Linked DNA regions of Homo sapiens. The protein of the gene in region 2 interacts with the protein of the main gene of each other region in a pairwise test. Each region holds a gene or a part of one and is shown on either strand. Other genes may lie near its edges.

Region 1 (7,484 bases), on a different chromosome or scaffold from region 2:
AGAGGGGTTGGGCCTGGTTAGTACTTGGATGGGAGATTGACTATGTCGTATCTAATTAGATTATCATTGATTTTACCTCGAAACGTGGCTGACAATGAACTTGTGTTGGGAGTTGGAAAAACACCAGTTCAGCCATTTTCTTTATGCTCACTTGGATTCACTATAATCTTCTAGCATAGTCTTCAATCAGAGGTTTCTTTATAGGACTCTTTAAAAGCCACATATCCATTATGAGGTTTCATTTAGTTAAAACTAGACCATGTAATCAATAAATCCACTTACCCAGGCACAAGAAAACCACAAAAGCTCACAATTGGCTGAACATAAACAAAGAAGTGAGTCAGTCCACTGTCAACCCCTCAGAAGGGCACAATGCCTCCTCCTATCTCAAGATTTTTTGAGTGTAGGCTATCTGACCATCTGATATGGGGGTCAAACAAAGACACTTCTGTCAATCCACATAGTAAATATCAGTAAAAAATATCTTATGTTCAAAGATTAAAAGTAAGCTCTAATAATTTCTTCAGTTCCCTAAGGAATCATCAAGCATGAATCCTCTGACCGATGACAAGAACTTTCTGTTTGCTGTGGAAGATCTCTTTGACCCCCAATCTGCCACCTATAGCCTCTCCAGCAAATTTCTCTCAGCACCCACTCTCTGCTCTTTCACAACCTTGATCCAGTTTTACTGTATTGCTCACCATGCCCCAAATATTCTGTGCTCTCACATCCCCCTGTGCATGGAACTGTAAGGATGATATCAAATAACACAAGTGAAAGCACCTGGCACCTAATAGGTGCTTTTAGTAAATGCATGTTGACTTTCACCTCAAGCTAGTTAAACTAAGTGGTTCTACAATGTTAGCCAGCCACAAAACCACCTGGAAAATTTGTTATAGCACAGATGGTTGTCACTCACCCACCAGAGTTTCTGACTCAATAGTTCTGAGGTGGGCCTGAAAATTTGCATTTCTAACAAATTCCAAGGTGATGCTGATGCCATGGGTCTGGGAATCAGTGAACTAGACGACCCGTATAGCTTCTTCTATTTCTAATGATCTCTGACTCCTCAATGCCTTTAATAGAGAGCAAATGAACAAAATGAACTTTTATCCCTATATAATATTTGACATTATCATGAAGGGAAATATGAACTCTATAATACCTCAGATGCACAGTGTAGAGAAAAGAGCACATACTTTTGAATCAGAAGATCTTGTTGAAATCCCACTTTATAGCAGTGTTGTTGACCTAAGGCAAGTTAACTAATCTCTGAGTTTCTTATCCTGCAAAACAGGAGTGTATTAAAGTAGTACCTACTTCATAGTGTTAATTGTGAGATAGTATATGGGAAATAATTTGTAAAAAGAAAAGTACTACATACAGACTGCCCCAATAAGATATATGCATAATGTATTAATGTACATTTAACACGCAGAATAGAAAGATAATAAATAACATACGTTTTGGCTGGGCGTGGTGGCTCACGCCTGTAATCCCAGCACTTTGGGAAACCAACACGGGTGGATCACCTGAGGTCAGGAGTTCAAGATCAGCCTGGTGAACATGGTGAAAACCCATCTTTACTAAAAATACAAAAATTAGCCAGGCGTGGTGGCACACGCCTATAATTGAAGCTACTTGGGGGGCTGAAGCAACAGAATCGATTGAACCCAAGAGGTGGAAATTGCAGTGAGCCAAGATAGTGCCACTGCACTCCAGCTCAGGTGACAGAGTGAGACTCTGTCTCGAAAAAAATAAAATAAAATAATAATAATACATGTTTTAAATACTTTAAATCACAAATTTTCAAAATTTCCAATCCAGGTACTAATTCATTTTTGAAAACTATATGATCTACATGTTGCTATATCATCTAAAATATGTGCATAATTTATTAGTACTATTGGCAGATACTAATAATAATAGTAGCTGTGGCAGCCAGCTTCCAAGATGGTCCCCAGTGATACTTTCCTCCCAATATCCACACTTTTGTGTAGTTTCCTCCCATGCTGAATCAGTGACCAACAGAACGCTGTAAGGCTAAGGCTAACTCATAAGAGACATTGCCACTTCCTCTGGCCTTTTACATCTCTCACTCTGGGAAAAGCCAGCTGCTATGCAAATAAAGACACTTCAGCAGCTCTGTGAAGACACTCTAAGAGGCCAAATGGGAACGAAGTAAGGCCTTCTGCCAACAGCTAGCACCAGACATGTGAGTGTGCAGTCTTAAGATCCTCCAGCCCCAGGCTAAGCGCGGTGGCTCACACCTGTAATCCCAGCACTTTGGGAGGCCGAGGTGGGCGGATCACAAGGTCAGGAGTTCGAGACCAGCCTGGCCAACATGGTGAAACACCATCTCTACTAAAAATACAAAAATTAACTGGGCATGGTGGCGGGCACCTGTAGTCCCAGCTACTCGGGAGGCTGAGGCAGGAGAATCGCTTGAACCCGGGAGGCGGAAGTTGCAGTGAGCTGAGATCATGTCACTGCACTCCAACCTGGGCAACAGGACAAGACTCCGTCTTAAAAAAAAAAAAAAGATCCTCCAGCTCCAGTGTATGTTTCAGATGACTGCAAGCCAAGCCAACATCTGGCTACACCTCATGAGAGGCCCCAACCACTCCCAAATGTTTGATCCACAGAAACTATGAGATAATGAATTATTATTGTTGTTTGACACTACCAATTTATTTATTTATTTATTTATTTATTTATTTGAGATGGAGTCTCGCTCCGTTGCACAGGCTGGAGTGCAGTGGCATGATCATGGCTCACTGCAGCCTCGACCTCCTGGGCTCAAGCAATCCTTCCACCTCAGCCTCCCAAGTAATGGGGACTACAGGAGCCCACCACCATGCCCAGCTAATTTGTTTTATTTTTTTGAGAGATGAGGTCTCACAATGTTGCCCAGTCTGGCACTATGAACTTATGAAGTGATTTGTTATACGACAGTAGATAACTGATACCTTAGCTAACATTTAGTGTGCATTTACTATGTTCCAGGAACTAAGCCAAGGACCTAAGGACCCAACAGCCTTATGATGTAGATGCTATTACAATCCCCAAAGGAGAAAGGGTGCCCCAGAGAAGTTAAGCAATTCAGTCAAGTTCCATGACTAGTAAGTGGTAGAAGCAGAATTTGAACCCAAGTCTCTAACTCCAAGCCCCAGTTTCTTGGTCACTCATTTAGACAAGCCAACATAAAACCTCCTGGATAGTTAAACAGCAGAAGCAACTGAACCCCTGGAGGAGAGCAAACTTGTATAAAACTAGCAGAGGGTAGCCCAGGGGCCACACCTGAAACAGCATTAATGCCTGATGCTGTAAGGCCCAGAAGTTCCAAGCTGGCCCCACCTCTAAGCCCTTGTACTGGCAGGCCAGCCGCTTCTCAGGAAAATCCTGCCCAAGATTCCCGGGACTCACCCAGATCTGCAGTTTCACCCGCTTCTCGTGACGGTAGACTGTCTTCACCTTGAAGTCGATGCCCACGGTGCTAACGAAGGCTGGGGTGAACGTGTCATCAGCATAGCGGAAGAGGAAGGAGGTCTTGCCAACACTGCTGTTGCCAATGATAAGCAGTTTAAACATGTAGTCAAAATTCTGGTCAGAGGCATCTTTGACTCCAGTTTTACCATCTGTCACTGAAGCCATCTGCAAGAGAGACCTAGAGTCACTCAGGAACAGACCTTCGGTGTCACCCTGAGTCACCATCCTTCTAATGGTCACCCCACCATTCACACACTCACTCCTTACTCCAGCACCACTGAGGAAATGCACACTACTCAGAATCACCCCATCACTACACCTGCCCCAAATGTTGTCTCAGCACTGAGGTGGAACCCAGCTCCTCCCATTCATTCCTTCAGCAAATATTTACTGAGCACATTGATCTGGGGCAAGCCCTGTGCTGGGCATGGGGCTTACAAACATGAGTCAGACATGGTGCCTGACCTCTAGGTGGACAAAAACTAGAATAAAAGGTGGGTCAACACAGAGTAACAAAGCAGTAGATAAGTGATAAGACAGAGGAGTCCTGGCTGAGGAAGTCCATGAGAAGCATCTCATTCAGCCTGGAGGCCCGGTGATCAAGGAGAGGCTCCTGGAGGAAGCAGCTCCTGAGCTATTTTGGGGAAAGAAAAAAAAAGCCAAGAACAGCAAACACATGCACATCCAAGGAAAGACTCAGTAAAGGGCTATCATTCTCTTGCTTCAAAAACTATTATGACTCAGGAGGCTGAGGTGGGAGGATCACTTGAGCCCAGGAGTTCGACGCTGCAGGGAGCCATGATCATGCCACTGAATGCCAGCCTGGGTAGCAGAGCAAGACCTCATCTCTAAAAAATAAAATAAATAAAACATAGAAACTTTCATGGCTTTCCACAGCTCTAAAGATCAAGTCCAAACTGTTCAATTTGACAAATAACCAACTAACCAAAGAGGCAATTCTCTAAACTTTATCTTCCCATACCCCTTCTCTTCACCAACCTGTGCTTCCCTTAGATCTAATTACACACTTTATGCCAAATAAGCCACATTATTCCTTGCCTTTGTCCCTTACATGTATTCCTTCTGCCTAGAATTCTCTTTTCCTCCTAAAAGACTCCTACCCATCCTTGGAGATCCAGATCAAGTGCCAGCTTCCCTGTGCTCCCAGAACACTGTAACAGCCCTTGTATCACTTCAGCACTGTTGGAATGAGCATCTGGGCCTTAATGGACTTCATTCCTACATGTCTGGCTTCCAGCATGAATCCTAGCACATAATAAGCACTCAGGAAATGTGTGCTGAATTCATCACAGTCACTTCATCACTCTGGGGCTCAATCTCCTCATCTGGAAAATGGGGAGAACAATTTCCACCCTGCTCTTCTCACAGGGCTATCACAGGACTCAAATGAGATAACAATGGATGAAACCATTATCAACTGGTAAATTCCACACAGATGTGAACATATGTCCTTATTATTCCAAAGCCTTCAAAGCCTAGGTCCTTTATTTGTTCACTCATTCACTCAGCAAATATTTAATACATGCCAGGCCTTTCCTGAGACCCCAGCCTTCTCAGTTCTGTCACCATCTGCTTTCCTAGAACACCCGAATCTGAACTCCATAATTCAGCACTTGGTCACATGGTCTTATTTAAGTCTTTAATTGCTTCTCCTATGTCTTGGAAGCCTCAGGTACCCTGCTTCTCCACCTGAAATCTCCCCTTCTTCTCAGCACAAGGGTACCCAGATGGCTGGATGAGTGGTCAGAGGAGGGTGGGAGGACAGCATTCAAGTGTGATGGTGTCTGGGTTTTCATTCTTTTTAGGAATTCCTGTTTTTTTCCCCAAGGGCAAAGAAAGGGCATGAGGCTGGTGGGTGTGGCTCTTTGGGCCTCTCAGATGAGCTGTAAGGATAAGGAGCTGATTAATGTAGGTTTAAAGCTCTCTTGAAGAAAAGTTAGACAAATATGTAAGATTGTTAGCAGCCTTTTAATAAAAGTTCCTTGCATATGTCACCACTGGACTCCTGTGGTCTCTGTTCTTCCTTCCCTTTGTTCCCAGCTCTCAATCCTTATCTGAGACTGTAAGTTCCATCCCTGTATCAATCTGCCCCATGACAAGACTCACTAGGCAAGTGTGGAACATGCCCAGGACACTTGGAGACTGAGGCATAGCACTTACATGGAGGAAGAAAGTGAGGTTGGAAGGGAGGGTGCCATTGGCTGCTTAAACTGTCTCACAGCCTTAACTTTTCAGCTTTTCATGGTACTAGGTGCAAAGGCTGTTGCAAGAACTTGCCATGTAAAGGCATTATGCTTTTTTTTTTTTTTTTTCTGAGATGGAGTCTTGCTCTTTTCGCCCAGGCTGGAGTGCAGTGGTGCAGCCTTGGCTCACTGCAACCTCTGCCCCCTGAGTTCAAGCGATTCTCCTGCCTTAGCCTCCCAAGTAGCTGGGATTACAGGCATCTGCCACCATGCCTAGTTAATTTCTGTATTTTTAGTAGAGACGGGGTTTTGCCATGTTGGCCAGGCTGGTCTCGAACTCCTGACCTCAGGTGATCCACCTGCCTCAGCCTCCCAAAGTGCTAGGATTACAGGCGTGAGCCACCACACCTGGCCACATTATGCTTTTTCTACATAAAAACAAGGGAAGCAACCACAACAACCTCACACCATCCTCCGCTCTGCTGCCTGCAAGTCATCTTTCTTTATTCACAAGAGAAAATTTCTACTATGAATATATTCATTATAAAAAATTTGAAAATTATATTATGCAAAAGTGTAAAAAAGAGAATTTAAAATTAACTGACGGCTGGGCACGGTGGCTCACGCCTGTAATCCCAGCACTTTGGGAGGCCGAGGCAGGCAGATCACGAGGTCAGGAGATCGAGACCATCCTGGCTAACACGGTGAAACCCCATCTCTACTAAAAATACAAAAAATTGGCCAGGGGTGGTGGCGGGTGCCTGTAGTCCCAGCTACAGGAGGCTGAGGCAGGAAAATGGCGTGAACCAGGGAGGCGGAGCTTGTAGTGAGCTGAGATCCAGGCCACTGCACTTCAGCCTACGCGACAGAGCGAGACTCCACCCCCCCAAAAAAAAAATTAACTGACATCCCACCCACTCAGAAACTATGGCTGTTAACATTTTACTGTATTTCCTCCAATATTTTTTCATACAAAAGAGTGCCACCTAAGGCCAGGTGCAGTGGCTCACACCTGTAATCCCAGAACTTTGGGAGGCCAAAGTGGGAGGATGGCTTCAGGCCAGGAGTTCAAGACCAGCCTGGGCAACATAGGGAGACCCCATTTCTACAAAAAGTAAAAAATTAGCCAGCCGTGGTGGCACACATCTATAATCCCAGCTGCTTGGGAGGCTGAAGCAGGAGTATTATTTGAGCCCAGAAATTTGAAGCTGCAGTAAACCATGATTGTGCCACTGCACTCCAGCTTGGGCAACAGAGCAAGACTGTCTCTACCAAAAAAAAAAAAAAACCTCCTCTCTCCAGTCCATGCCTCCAAGATGACAAAGAAAAGAAGGAACAATGGTCATGCCAAAAAGGCCTGCAGCCACTTGCAGCCTATTCACTGGATGAACTGTGCCCAATGTGTGCCCAAGGACAAGGCCATTAAGAAATTCGTCATTTGAAACATAGTGGAGGCCACAGCAGTCAGGGACATTTCTGAAGTGAGCATCTTCGATGCCTATGTGCTTCCCAAGCAGTATGTGAAGCTACATTACTATGCGAGTTGTGCAATTCACAGCAAAGTAGTCAGGAATCGATCTCATGAAGCCCGCAAGGACCAAACACCCCCACCCTGATTTAGACCTGTAGGTGCTGCCCCACGACCCCCACCAAAGCCCATGTAAGGAGCTGAGTCCTTAAAGACTGAAGATGGACTATTTCCTGGAGAAAAATAAAATGGAAATTGTACTTTAAAAAAAAGCCATCTATTTTAATACTATGTTTTATTTGTTAATTTAAAAGGTAATACAT
Region 2 (6,538 bases):
TGGGACCAGTAGCACTCGGGTTGGGGAAGGGCAGGAAGAGAGGTGCAGACCCGTTACAGCTGGGCCTGTCTATAGCTCAGCAGGGTCTGACTCCTCCTGACACTCCCCTCCGGCCTCTCAGACAGTGCTCGGGGTGAGAGCCACACCCACAGGGGCAGCTCCGTTGCCATCAGCTGCAGTGGCATAGTCAAGCTCCAGCTTCTCATTGCAGCCTGGTCAGTAGGGCAGGCAGGGGGTAGGGATGGGACAGGGACCTTCTCTCATCCACAGGCTAGAGGGGCCACTGGTCATCGTGAGATGGGGCCATGACTCTGGGGTGAGGTCCCCTCAAGGGCGCTGAGTACTTGAGGTTTGGCTATCAAATCACCCTGACTTCCTGACCAGCCCACACCCTCCAGACTGGCGGCTGGAGTACCTCTCTTGGAAACTTTAGTTTTTTGCCGTCCTCGCCTTTTGGGGCTGGCCGACTGTGGAGCTTAAAGAAGGCACGTGGTCTCTCAGTGTCCAGTCCCAGAGGCTCCAGTGTTGACAAATGTTGTTTATTGGTCTGTTACACAGAAGAGTATAGTTTCTGAGGCAAAAATCATACACACTCTGCTCCTCACAAAACCACGGAGTCACTAAGGCAGGCACACAATGGCCACACGTGCTTGGTGGAGGCCAAGGACTCACGGACAACAAGGATGGACAATGGGGTGGTCTGGCCCCCAGACAGGCTGTGCAGTGCCCGGGGGCAGGGCTGGGCTGGGCAGGCTGTGCTGGGTGCAGAAGGGCTGCGGGGCCCTTTGTCATGTTTCTCAAATGCAGAAAGTCTGCCAGACTTTGGTGGCTGCTGGACTAGGCCCCAGCCCCGGGCAGGGCCTCCATGTTCCAGGGCAAGGCCTAGCCTGCATGTGTTGGGGTAGAGGAGGAAGTGGGGATGGCCGAGCAAGCAGCATGCCTAGGCCTGGGGGCAGGAGCTATGCCCTTCCTGGCACCCCCGCATACACAGCTCCTCCAAGGGGGTTTCTGGGTTCCTAGGCCTCTTGGCATCCTGAGAAGCATGTGGAAGGCAGAGCTAGCCTTGCTTCTCACCAGGGACAGATGGGGACACCCATGCATCCCCTGCCTCCCGCAGTCTCAGGGACATGGCAGATGTCTGCGACAGATAATGGGCTGCCCTCGAACTGAGGCCTGTCTCTGAGGGGAGGCTGTGACCGGATTCTTCCCCGACAGAGTCACCCTGGGATTCCTCAGAGCAAGTGCTCCGGTCGCATTCCAGATCATCCACTGGCAAAAGCATCACTTCTTACACGTGGTTTTCAGGGAAGTACCTAATGCAGAACGCAAGGGTGGGGTGGCAGGAGCGAGGCTGTACAGATACACAGAGGTACACTGTACAAGGCCGGGGAGGCCTGGGGGTCACCTCAGGTGGCCAAAGGCAGTGGCAGTGCTGCTGAAGTGGGCTGCTCCCACCCAGGGCCCACATCTTCCGACTGCCCCAGAATCTCGGGGGAGCGGCCTGAAGGCGGCCCGGGTCTCCCGTGCCCGGGTCTCCCGCACCCGTGACGTGTGCCTAAACCAGAAGCAGTTTTGGTTGCTCCAGCTGGGGCTGGTGCACGCACAATATACTGGGACTGCAAAGGGACCCTCAGAAGGGACACAGCACAGAGCCTCTCGCCCTCTGCCACCCCAGCTGAGTAGGGCCCAGGCCGCTATAGCCCCTGTTAATCCTGTGGGGCCCCAGGTTCACTCGTGGGCAGCAGTCCAGGCTGCGGCTGCAGGTGGCAGTGGGGCTACTCCCAGATGTGTGAGAGGGGAGCAGAGTAGGTGTGTCCCCCAAGGCAGCTGCTCCCTGAGGCTGACCCCTCCCATCCCGGCCCTGATCCGAGGGCATCCTGGCCCCTGACTTGCCCTGCAGGGTCAGCACTGCCGGGAGTCGGATCCAGGCTCACAACCGCTTTGTTAGGAACAGAGGTGGGGTCGGTTGGTGGCTGGGGAGGTCTGGGCGGTGACTCCCCTGCACCTCTCCCTGCCGGAGCCCAGGCTCTGCACGGCTGCTGCCTCCTGGCCCCAGCTCACTTGTTCTCTATGAGCATCTGCACCTTGTGGACGAGGTCCCGGGCAATCCGCAGGATCTCCTGGGCATCGTGATGCTCAGCACGTTCTGGGGGGAAACGTGAAGAGCTGTAGAGAGGCCCAGAGAAAGGGCAGCAGGCTAGGAGGTGGCTGACTACCCTGCTCTGTTTCCATCTGCTCTGCTAGATTCTTGACATCCCGGCCTTTGGGGAAGGGCCCCCAGGATTCCTGAGAACCCTCCAGCTGTGTGCGGGGCAGAGGTGGGGGCCTCCACACCTCTGCTCAGGGCAGCCTGGATGGCTGGACCAGCTCGTACCATTGAAAAACTTGATGATGTCAGTGAAGTCCATGTTGTTGTCACGGATGATCTCTCGGTAGGCCTCCACCAGGGCGAGGGCGATGAACAGGACAAAGTGCTCCGATGAGATGTGCCTGGCTGCCCAGATCACCTCCCACACAGCAAACACATCCTCATACAGCAGTTCTGCGGAGAGTAAGCGGCTGCTGCTCACCCGTCCTAGCCGCATATCTGGGGCTGAGGCTGGGATTGAGGCTGAGGCTGGGATTGAGGCTGGGGCTGAGGCTGAGGCTGAGGCTGGGGCTGGGGCTGATGCTGGCCGGACTGGCTGCTCACAGGCCTCTAAATGGAGCCAGGTGAGGGATCAGAGCTTCAGGGGCCAAAGTCGTGGGATTCTCTCCATGACACAGAGCCTGGCTCAGGAATGGGGGTTCTGTACCCCGTACCAAGGCCCCATCCTTTTCTTGGGTAATTTCTGCACACTGGGTTCCTGCAGACTCTGCCTGCACTTCAGCCGGGCAGCTGTCACAGGCCTCCCATCTTGGTGCTCAGGAATGCTTTGGTTTGAAAAAAGTTCCCCAAACTATGATCTATGAGAGTTGTAACTGTCAACCCTAGTGGCACTTCGGAATCACCTATGGAAATTTTGTTTTCTTTTCAATTTTTTCTTTTCTTTTCTTTTTTTTTTTTTGAGACACAGTCTGGCTCTGTTGCCCAGGCTGGAGTGCAGTGGCACAATCTCAGCTCACCATAACCTTGCCTCCACTACAGGCACCCGCCACCATGCCCGGCTGATTTTTGTATTTTTAGTAGAGACGGAGTTTCACCATGTTGGCCAGGCTGGCCTCAAACCCCTGACCTCAAGTGATTTGCTTGCCTTGGCCTCCCAAAGTGCTGGGATTACAGGCATGAGCCACCGCACCCAGCCTCATTTTTTCTTTCTTTTTTAAAAATTAAAGACAGGGTCTCGCTATGTTGCCCAGGCTAGTCTCAAGATCCTGGGTGCAAGCGATCCTCTCACCTTGACTTCCCAAAGTGCTGGGTTTACAGGCGTGAGCCACTGTGTCTGGTCAGCGAGCATTTAAGAACCCATAGGCCCAGGCAGCCACAGTTCATGAGTCTGGGCTGGGTGGGGCCAGGGTTCTGGCAGGTTTTAAAGCTCCCCAGGTGGTTCCAAGGTCCAGTTAGGATTGAGAACTGTTGGCTTGGGGGAAGAGGGATCTCTCACTGTCCCTGACCTCAGCCCCATGATCCAACCCACTTCTTACCTCTCTTAAAATCCAGCAGGAACCAGCGATAACAGAAGTAGAAGTGGGTGTAGTCTCCATTCTGATGCATCAGCTCAAACAGCTCTGAGTCCAGGATCTTATGTGGGTGGGAAAAGGGAGAGAGGCTGAGCCCTGAGCCGATGCTGCCTCTGGCCGCCACTCACCGTCCGCTCACGCCCAGGGATGCAGGCGATCCCCAACCTGGCAGTGGGTCTGTCTGTTGCCCTGTGCTGCGCGGTGCACTCTCTCCCCCTCGGATCTCCTTGTGGAGGGTGGGTTGCTCCTGCTGCCCCTCCCATCACCCATCTCTCTGAGCTGCATTATTTTTAGGGTTATAGGATTTTCTGGGTGTCTGATGTCATCAGCAACCCCTACTGTTCGCCAGAACTTTCATGGGCACGAGCATTCACACACACACACACTCCTCCTCAATTTCTAACGCTGAAACCATGGTTTTTTTTTTTTTTTTTGAGACAGAGTCTCGCTCTGTCACCCAGGCTGGAGTGCAGTGGTGTGATCTCGGCTCACTGCAACCTCCACCTCCCGGGTTCAAGTGATTCTCCTGCCTCAGCCTCCCGAGTAGCTGGGACTACAGGTGTGTGCCACCACGCCCGGCTAATTTTTGTATTTTTAGTAGAGATGGGGTTTCACGATGTTGGCCAGGCTGGTCTCAAACTCCTGACTTCGTGATCCGCCTGCCTCGGCCTCCTAAATTGCTGGGATGACAGGCCTGAGCCACGTTGCCCTGCTGAAACCATGTCTTTTAAAATGAAAGAAGTTAAGTTTCTATGTCAAGTATGTTTGTGGAATGCTCCCTAGCCATGTGGACGATGGACCAGCCCAGCACTGCCTGCTCCCATGCCCATGGGTGGCAACCGGCCTCACCTGGATGAGGGAGCGCATGTTGGCAAAGTGGGTGTCCATGGCACCCCCGTTGGGGAAGTTCTGGCTCATCCTCTTCATGAGGTGGCTGAAGCAGCTGTAGGCCAGCTGATCTGAGGGGAGACAGGAGTGAAGCTGGCAGGGCAGGAGACGCAGGGGACAGAGCCGGCTCCCATTCCCACCCCTCCAGACCTGGCCACCCTCTCGTCCTTTCTCCAGCTTACGCAGCCCAGTCCCATGTCCCGCCATCCCTCACCATTGTCGAGGGTGACCAGGAGAGGCGCCAGCAGATCGCACATGCCCTGCACATAGCCCACGTCCAGGTGCTCCCACACGTAGCTGAAAGGCAGGGGGAGAGTCACTGTGGCTGTGCCCCATTCTTCCCTCCCTCGGGATCCCTGGGAAGACGTCCTCCAGAGCCACCTGCCGCCCAGAAGTCAGCCTTTCCACGACCCTAAGGCATGTACTGTGCACCCCCCACAGGGAGACAACGGGGAACAACCCACGGGTCCCCCCCAAGGCACTCCGACTTAGGGAGAGCCAAGGCCGTCACGCTTGGTATGTGGGGCGGGGGTGCGGGGATGAGGGAAAGCTTCCTGAAGAGGTGTGGCTGAAGTGGAGGTCTGGTAGGCCCCTAAGAATGAAGAGGCGCGGGGGAGGGGTGTGCAGGAAAAAAGCGTTCCAGGCAGGGGGAGCCAAGTGTGATTCAGGAGCAGGAGAGAGGAGCAGGGCACCTTCCGGACCTCATCTTCACAGAGTAACTGGCGGCAGGGTCCCGCCTCCCACCCTGAGCCCCGCCCCACAAGGCACCTGCACATGACGTCTCTGAGCCTCTCGAGGTTGGGGGGCGTGAAGTACCAGTAGTTGCGGTCACACCTCTGCACATCCTTGTCTATGCGGTGCAGGTTTAAGGCCACAGTGTCCAGTAATTCTATCTGGAAGAGTGGAGGGCCCTCAGGCATGAGACCGGGCAGCCCTTCCCAGGCTGGGGGCAGGAGGTGACGCCCCAAGAAATGCAGCAAAACGGAACCCAGAGACCAGAGCGAGTCCTGTGGGGATGCTGAGAAATGGGCTCAGAACTCCCTTCCAGGGCAGTCAGGGCGCCCCGCCTTCCACCCCACCAGCGCTTCCCCAGCTCTGGGATGTCAGGAGGGCCTCTGGGGCGGCTGGGAACAGCCTGGGGAGCATGTACGCACAGTGTAGGCAGCCGCACACACAGCCGCAAGCTCCTCTCCGGCCTCCAGTTCTCCGGCCTGAGGCTTCTCCTGGCTGGGATCCTGGGGCTCCCTCAAAGTGTGAGCTGCAGGGCCGGGCCCACTGGAGCCTTCCTCCCCACCGCCGTCCTCCTCTTCGAAGCCCACGCTCTGCCCCTCATCTAGGCTTGACTGGATGCCCGAGGCCACGGAGTAATTGCGAGAGGAGGGCAGTCCTGAGTCTGGAGAGTCGAACTCCACGGAATGCTGCTGCTCCACCACGGCGGTGCCCGGAGTCCCGGGTCCTGCTTCCTGCTCAGGTTTTGGTCTGGAATCTTCAGGGTCCTGGGGCTCCGGGGGTTCCAGATCATCCACTGAGATAAACACCTGGGGGGTGAACACAGGGCGGCTCCACCTGCACTCCAGCACCTTCCCGCAGCCCACCGCCTCCTCGGGCCAGAAGGGAGCTGGAATGCAAAACTCTTCACACCCCCTCTCCCACCACAGCCTCCAACACTGTGGCCACGGGGCACCAAGCCAGCTTCTGACCCAGCCAGCCAGGCGGAGAGAAACAAGCCTCTGGCCAAACATGAAGACACGTCTTCAGCCCTGCTTGAAGGAACAGCCCCAGGTCTTCCTGTGGCTACTGAAGGGAAGTAGGGGAGCCAGGGGGCTGAACGCTCAATGGCCAGTTTGAACTCAGTCTCATTCTAGAAACGCCTGAAGTCATGAGACCGGGAGAATGGCCTTAGTGTTTTGGTGTGGCTGGGTGGAGAGAAGCCTAGAGGTTTTAGGAAAAACAAGTTTTGCCTTATTTTCAGTACTGAGTGTTCAGCAGG
Region 3 (7,994 bases), on a different chromosome or scaffold from region 2:
GGAGAATGAAAAGCTTATGAAGTTTGCAAAGATTTGTAAGCATTTTTTGAAAAATTTGGTTTGAGATTTTTATTCCTCTGGCTCCTCCACCTCCTTTCATGCACTGGTGGGGGCCTTGTGGCTCAGTATTAACCCTTCTCAGAAAGGGCCTGCTAGTGAAAGTATAAGAATTCTTCCTTTTCTCTTTCTTCCATATTTGAGAATGCCTTGTTCCTCAACAAGCTTGAACATCTGCATATGGCACAGAATCTCAGCATTGAAGGGACCTTCAGGGTCTTCTGGTCCAATCTTGCTACTGATATTTGAGAAAACACTACAGTGCCTATTGTGTGTTGTGTCCTTACTAAGGAAACCCTCCACTCTCCTCTGCTGTCTCCAACTCCCATTTATTTTCTAGAAGTAAAAATGAATACAGTTTAGATTTGTCTCCTTGCCTTCATTCAATCCTGCTGATTTTCCCTTGAAGTATCATTTTCTAGTCCTGTGCTACCATCCTCATTTTGGCCCACAATTTCTCACATCTAATCTATTGTGAAAGTTCTTCTCTCCCTGCTTCTGGTGTCTCCCCACTCAATCTACTTTGCAAAGCTTCATCACTCAAACATCCATTGGATGTAGATACTGTTGGGAATTAATAAATGTTTAAGGCAAGGTCTTGCCCTCAGGGAGTTTACAAATTAACATGCAAGCTCAGGATCTCATTGTTTACAGTTGAAATAATGTCATTATACTGACTTATTTTGTTAACAAACTTTTCCTGTCTTTCTTACATGATCAATTTTAAATTCCTAGATAGTAAGCTCACTGTATACATCTTTGAAGCCCCTTCAGTGTGCAGCACCAGGATCCTCCATGGAGATAATAAATATTTGTTTACCAATTAAATGATTAGGTAGGTGCCCAGAATTAATGCCTCTGAATTGATGCCAAGGTACAATAGATCCATAGTTCTGTAAGATGCCAAAATACTATTATTTATAAGGTAACTAAAGAGCAGAAGTTATGAACTTGACTCGATCATTTTCTGGATGGGGAGTAATGGGAATTCCACCTGTTGAAAGTCAAGGGAAATGCTCCAGTTTTCCTCCCCCTACTCTCACATTTTAAAAATAAGTATATACATTTCCCCATTCCTACCCAAAACAAGAGCAGAATAATGATATCCAGTTGATGTTGTCGGTGGGTGCTGGCCTCTCCACAATCATTTATCATTGTTTGAAAATGAATGTCATGTCCTTTAGTACATACTTAAATTAAAAAGAACTAGCACAGTGTAAAAGCAAATGAAATCATTTTTTCCTCCCCCAGAATATGCCGGATTTAATCCAAACCTTTAAACAAGGTAACATTAAGCAGGCAAATGAATTCTTTGATAACACTAAATACGTAAATAGGAAAGTCAAATGACGTATGCATCCCTTATGGGTCCTCTGTCGGGCGAGCATTTGGACCAAAACGCTTATTCTGATTTTGATCCCATTCAGAGAAAGATCTGACTCTAACTGAGTAAAATATTCGAGAGACGCAATTCCCCTTTCCTACCCCCACAAACTCATTAATGAGCATGCTCTAAGGATAGTTTACTAACTTTTTTTTTTCCCATCAGGGTCTCAGTCTTGGAGAGTAAGGTGAATTAGGAATTTCCATAACCAATACTCCCCAGCTCTTTGTTCTTTAACACACTTGAAACCTTCTGAATCTGCAGTACCCACAAAGCCTTATTCAAATTATTGTATTTAGTTGGGAATGCTTAGAGGTGGGAGTGGAGGTGGGGGAGGAGGCAGTACAATGAAGAAAAAGAAGTTGAACCTTTGAAAATAGTACATTTTAGTATGATGATGGAGAGAAGAGAGGCAGAAAAGCAAATTCGCATCAGTTCAGTTGCCATGGAGTGGAATGATGCTCAAAATCAGTAGTGCAGATTGCTCGGAGGCAAGTCTTGAAAGGGATGTGTACTGCAGGGATCGATAGGGGAAGAGCAACTGGGGAGGGCTAGGCACTGGATGAGAGTGGCACTGTTGGAAGTCTGTACAGGGGAGGAGCCATGGTTGGACCTGTGGGGAAAGCCCATCTTGTGGCGACACACTGGTAAGGGCTACTCAACTCACTGTTGAATGCTGGCACAATAATTGGAAATATTGCACTGAAGAATTGGGCGCGGCTATATTTATGTAAAATTCAACACGGATGAGAAATGATTGAATGTTTGAGTGTGTTTCCAATACAACCCAATACTTGGCGTTGGTGCTGGTGGTGGGTGCTTCGTAGCGCGGAAACCCTCTGACGCACTGGATTCATTTTGCAGAGCTAACAAGTTATCAGCTACATCCATGCCGACTCCAAATGCCACAGCTGTCATGCCACTGAAACGCTATTCCTACATTCATGCCCACATTTATATCCTATATGCAACTCAAAGGGTCCAATGTGGAGTCCCACATCTAACCTTTCACTGCTCACAACGACAGCTCTAGGGCTATAAGCCCAAAGGCACACTAGATAGCAATCTGGCATCGTCCCCAGGACACTTCTTCCTCAGTAGACTGCCCAGGGACAGATAGGTAGATAAGGTTTGGATGACATCAAGCGAGCTGAACACAAGGAAAAAAAGCTTCCTTGGGAGACAAGAATGCTGGCATCTCTACGACAGGGGCACTGTTAGCATTACGGACCTAGAAAGTGAGATGTCACACATAGTCCCAACTACCTCCGACCCAGGTCCTCTCACCTCACCCCCAGCTCTTAGAGCTAGTCGGCTGTGGCGCATGCGCACTGAGCCACACCCGCTCCCCACGGAGCCCTGCGCCTCTCTGCTCGGCTCTGGCAGCAGCTCGGGATTACTCAGCAACGCCCCCCTGCACTGTCACCTGCCCCCGACTCCGACCTCGGGAGCGGCTCAGTCCCTTTTCTCAAGCTACGAGTGGTCCTGGGGATCAACTAGACTTTCCTTTCTCCCTCTTCTCACAGGCCCCCCACCTCCCGGCCTTCCGGGTCCTCCAGCCCCTAGCCCCTGTTCCTGCCCACGCACAGGCACCTTACCCAACACAATGGGAAGGAAACAGGAGAGGGCCGCGGGTGCCAGGCAGGTCAGCTCTGCGTGCCGGGAATCCGGCTCCTTAGAGTCACCGTCACTGCTCCTGCTGCCTCCTCGTCCTCAATGGGGCAGCAAGTGCGGCTTGGACCTCGGTGGCCTGACAGCTGCCGCTCGCGCCCGCCGCTGCCGCCGCGCAGCGTCTCGAGCCCGCGCCCGCGCCCGCCAGGGGAGGGGGCGGGGCCCGCGCCGCCTCCTCGTGCCCCTTTCTCGGCGGTGGGGACCCGGTGTAGCCGCCTCCCGCCCTCCATGTGGCAAGCGCTCCCTGGCTCGCCCACTCTTCTTTCATGCTCATCGTCCAACCCTGGTCTCCCTTGTCCTCCTTCTCCTCCCCTAGCCGATTAGTAGGCACAGCGGCAATAGACCGTCAAATATTGCTCTTCCACTTAGCTCCTCTGCAGCCTGGGCCTAAGCCCTCAAGCAGGGCTAGCCACTGCCCCACTTCCTGCAATTATCCTCTGATCTACCTCATTTATCCTAGCTCAAAATCCTTTAATTTTGCCAAGAGGGTAGTACATACACCCTCTTGTTTCAAATAACTCAGGAAAACACATGATCACAACACATTGCTAGGCCCTCTAACTGGCTACAGCTTATGAAATTTTCAGGCAATTAAAAAAAATGTCCACATCTGTAGCGCAGGCATAGAGGACACACTGCCCTTTACTCTTACCAGATACAGTTCTAGAGGGCCACACAGGGGGCATTACTTGAATTTCCCGGAATTGCTGCTGGGGCAGAATTTGATGTTTTAATTGTGCCTAGCCGACCAGCTAGTCTCTTTTTGTTGTTTTCTGTAGCCCTCTGGTACTTCCAACTAGTTTGTGATTTTCCCCCTGGAATTGAAGAAGGACAAAGCTCCTGAGGTCATTTAGCCTGCACTCCACCTCTCTGTCAGGCAGCTCCATCTCTGAAGCTTCCCCATTGCCCGAAACCCTGTGACCTTGTGGCACAGGCCCTCACTCATCTCATGACCCCGTCCAGGCCCTCACACATACCCGCTACTTCCATCTAGGCCACTCTTCCTCTGTCTCTTGACAAGGCAATCGTGCAATCAATCTCCGCAGGCCCCAGCTTAAATGTCACTTCTCAGGATAACCTTTCTCGATAATCTCAGAATAGAGATGGTGCCCCAGTTTATACTCTTGTAGCCTCCTGTAACTTGCTGTATTTTTCCTTCATAACACTTACCCATTTTTGGTGGTACATTTAAGTGTATGATTATTTGGTTGACAGCTGTCTTCCCTACTAAACTATAGTGGGGAAGGACTATGAGGTCAAGGACAACGTTTGTGTTCACCACCGTATGCACAGAGCCTAGGGCAATGCTTGCTGCATAGGACATGCTCAGAAAATATTTGCTGAATATGAATGAATGCTGTATCACTAATAGTTGTTATATTTAAATAAAATAAATTGATGTAACTGAATCTCATGTGCTCCTATTTAAACCAACCCCGTTCCCCACACATACACTCTAAAACACTCTTCTGATGAAGACGAGATTCACACAATCCTCTAAATCAAATTTTCCGCATACATTTTAGTCTATTAAAAAACTATTGAGCATGGGCCCCAACATATGTATAAGGATTTATAGATTATATACATGTACTACTGTACATGTATACATTACACATTACTTTAAACATACATTTTAATGAGTAAACATTAAAATACTCCACAGAAATTTTAAAAGAATGAGAAAAATAAATATATTGATGTTCCAATGTTTTCTTTTTGCACCTCAATAAATAGTTTTGTGAAATGCTTTAAATAACAGTCCTTCATATTAGAGTAACTCGTCTTTAGGTGTAACAATCTAGACTACTTTTTCATTTTCTCATAGATGCCATTTTCCAACAGTTTAAAAATCTCTGAGAAACCCCCAAACCAACTGGCAAGTTTTAAGGATCTTTTAGTTTCTAAGCTACCTCGTTCTGTAGTCAGGATCTCACAACTGCTGAAAGCACCACACGTTTAGTGAATGTTGGAACACCTAAAGGTAAGAAAAATCCTTTGTTAGACCAAAGATTCCTACATGTAAATCCTATATTAAAAGAGTCTCTAGAGGCCACTTAAAAAGCAGCTACTATTATCTTTCTAGAATGGAAGCAACATGACTAACACTAGTTGTGAGGGATCAGCAAAAATGGACAGCACGAAGATTCAAAGTAACAGCTGTGGATGGTTTTGTGGCTCTCAGATGGGACTATTCCCAATGGTCAATCATTGAGATCTGTCAAATAGTGTCCTTCACACACAATAAAAATTCTATTTTTATAACACAGTTACACACACACACACACACACACAATAGAATCATAGTGTAGTCGGTAGATAGAAGGCCAAACCAAGATTGCGTTTGGATACCAGAGATAGGGTTACCTTCAGAGTCACACACACACACACACACACACACACACATACGCTCTTCAACATTCAATGAACAAGATCTCCCAAAGTCTCATCCTGATCAGTTTGAAATACATTGACCTGAGCTTCAGGAAGACATAATTGTAATGTGATTAATTTAAAAGAACAGCCTGGTCCAGCAGTCACAAGTTGTTATGTACAAGAGGGTTCCGTGAAGCATTCAAATAAGTGTATAAACACTGCATACTATTTCCCTTCCAGAAGAGTCACGTTGCATATTAAAACATTAACGTCTCTTGGAGTCCTGAAGTAAAGAAATCTGTTGTGTTGTTTTTCAATCTTACATTTCCAAAACTTTTGTGAACATGAATTTCTTTTGTTTATGGAACATCTATTAGCAGGACTAGAACAGCTCAGGACCCAATTTAGCAACTACTGTCCTAATCATTAATATTGAACATATTCATAGGCCAACGTATTTGTCATCTTTGTCCTAGAATATTTATGTGGCAACTATACACGTTATATTTTCCAGATAGTCCTGATTTCAAATACTTTGTCCTATTGTCCTAATTTTTACAACAATACTCATGAGATCATCTAATGTTTTATTCAGAAATTATGGCAGTCATAGATATGTAAATAGGAAATTAGTAAGAATTTGTGAACTATTTACCTATCATTGTCCAAGAGCAAGTCACAGTTTCTGGTGATACAATATTTTTTTAAAAAATCATTTGACACAGGGATAATATTATGGAATAGGAATACTTTGCCAGATTTTTCATAGCCTGAAGGAAAGATCTCTTAAGATTATCCAATTATGGAAGGCATCAGTATGAACTCAGTTTAGTCATTTAAAAAAAATTTTTAAGCTCTGTCCACTAAAAATACTTAGAAACAATGAAAATCTCAGTGTCCAAATTCACCTATAGTGCCCATAGGATGGTTCTAAATGCTATTTCCCAATAAAAGGACCCAGGATTACTTAAATAAATGGCTGACTTCAGATATGTGGCAAGAAATATCCAAGATGAACATAAAATATCTTGTCACACCAGATAGCAAGGAAGCTAAAAACATTATTAGAGTTGAGTCAAAAGGACTTGAAGAGGCTGTCATCAGTCAAACACGGGGCAATTTGAGCATCAGTAAAGATAATAACTACAATGAATTGAAATATATCAAATATGTTTAAATATACAAATTCATAAAAACACTTAAAAACATAATTGCTCAATTTGGCCAAACCTAGAAAGCTAGCTCATTATTTTAAAACTGGTAAATAAAGAGAGTGACTCAAACATTTAACCTGCTTTTTTTAAATACAAATTATTCCTTGGTGTAACAAAGGAGTTGGCGAGGAAAGTGTTTTAAAAAGATTCCCAGCTAATAAATTATGAAGGAATGATAAAATTACAACCTTTAATGAATTAGTGGATCTAGGTAATAATAGTTAATGTCTTCTAACATTACAAAAGGAGTGTTAACCATATATCATATGCCTCTTGATGGAAAAACACAGCAGCACATAGAAAGTATTTTTTGTCAAAAAATGCAATTTGAACCCTATCAAGCTCCTAGATATAACTATGAATTTTTAGAAAAATACAAGGAAAAATATGTTAACATTGTAGGGATGTAAGCAACAACATCCAGACTTAGGTTTAGAGTGCAGGTGTGTGTGTGTGTGGTTTAGAGTGCAGGTGTGTGTGTGTGTGTCTGTGTGTTGAGGGGGGAGAAACTGCAGAAAAAAACGTGGTTTCTTCAACAAATAAATTTTAAGAAAGAATACAAAAATGAAAGTTAAAAAGAATGCATTTACAATGACATCAAAGAGAATGAAATATTTAGAAGTAAATTTTAAAAAAGAAGTGCAAAAAAAAGAAGTGCAAAAGTAACACTCTTAAAAACACAAAACTTTGTTGAAAGAAATTAAAAAAGATCTAAATAAACGGAAAGATATCATATGTTTGTGGATTGAAAGACAATATTTATAAGGTGGAAATACTCTTCAAATTGATCTACAGATTCAACGCAATTCCTGTCAGAACCCCAGCTGGCTTCTTTGTAGAAATTTACAAGCTGATCCTAATATTCTTATGGAAACTCAAGGAACCCAGAATAGCCAACACAATCCCGCAAGAGAACTCAGCCTTTTCAATTTCAAAACTTACTACAAAACTACAGTTACCAAAATAGTGTGGTACTGGCATAAGGCTAACATGTAGATCAGTAAAATATAATTGAGAATCCAGAAATAAACACACGTGTCTATGGTCAATTGATTTTCAACAAAGCTGCCAAGGCCATTTAATGGGGAAAGAATAGATTTTTTCAACAAAGTGTGCTGGAATAACAGGATAGCCACATGCAGAAGAATGAAGTGGGACCCTCACCTCACAGCACATACAAAATTAACTAAAAATGGATTATACTATAAAATTGTTAGAAGAAAGCAGTAGTAAGTCTGGTCTTGAGTTAGGCAATGGATTCTTAGATATGACACCAAAAGCAAGGGCAACAA

The links. Proteins that work in one complex are often made in the same cells at the same time.
Region 1: the proteins of SGSM2 (region 2) and RAB3B interact in a two-hybrid assay, tested with the Homo sapiens proteins (one study listed by BioGRID).
Region 3: the proteins of SGSM2 (region 2) and RAB9B interact in a two-hybrid assay, tested with the Homo sapiens proteins (one study listed by BioGRID).

Annotation. Positions count from the first base shown.
Region 1 is NC_000001.11:51,973,464-51,980,947, forward strand, and holds part of RAB3B (ras-related protein Rab-3B), read right to left. Parts: intron 7,425-7,484; exon of another isoform or gene 6,983-7,424; intron 3,779-6,982; exon of another isoform or gene 3,750-3,778; intron 3,655-3,749; coding exon 3,427-3,654; intron 1-3,426. UniProt on the Homo sapiens protein: The small GTPases Rab are key regulators of intracellular membrane trafficking, from the formation of transport vesicles to their fusion with membranes.
Region 2 is NC_000017.11:2,375,040-2,381,577, reverse strand, and holds the end of SGSM2 (small G protein signaling modulator 2), read right to left. Parts: intron 6,087-6,538; coding exon 5,703-6,086; intron 5,442-5,702; coding exon 5,317-5,441; intron 4,846-5,316; coding exon 4,763-4,845; intron 4,620-4,762; coding exon 4,510-4,619; intron 3,722-4,509; coding exon 3,625-3,721; intron 2,543-3,624; coding exon 2,375-2,542; intron 2,167-2,374; coding exon of another isoform or gene 2,147-2,166; coding exon 2,058-2,146; 3' UTR 1,314-2,057; coding exon of another isoform or gene 1,282-1,313; 3' UTR 524-1,281; downstream 1-523.
Region 3 is NC_000023.11:103,829,021-103,837,014, forward strand, and holds the start of RAB9B (ras-related protein Rab-9B), read right to left. Parts: upstream 3,238-7,994; 5' UTR 3,040-3,237; intron 1-3,039. UniProt on the Homo sapiens protein: The small GTPases Rab are key regulators of intracellular membrane trafficking, from the formation of transport vesicles to their fusion with membranes.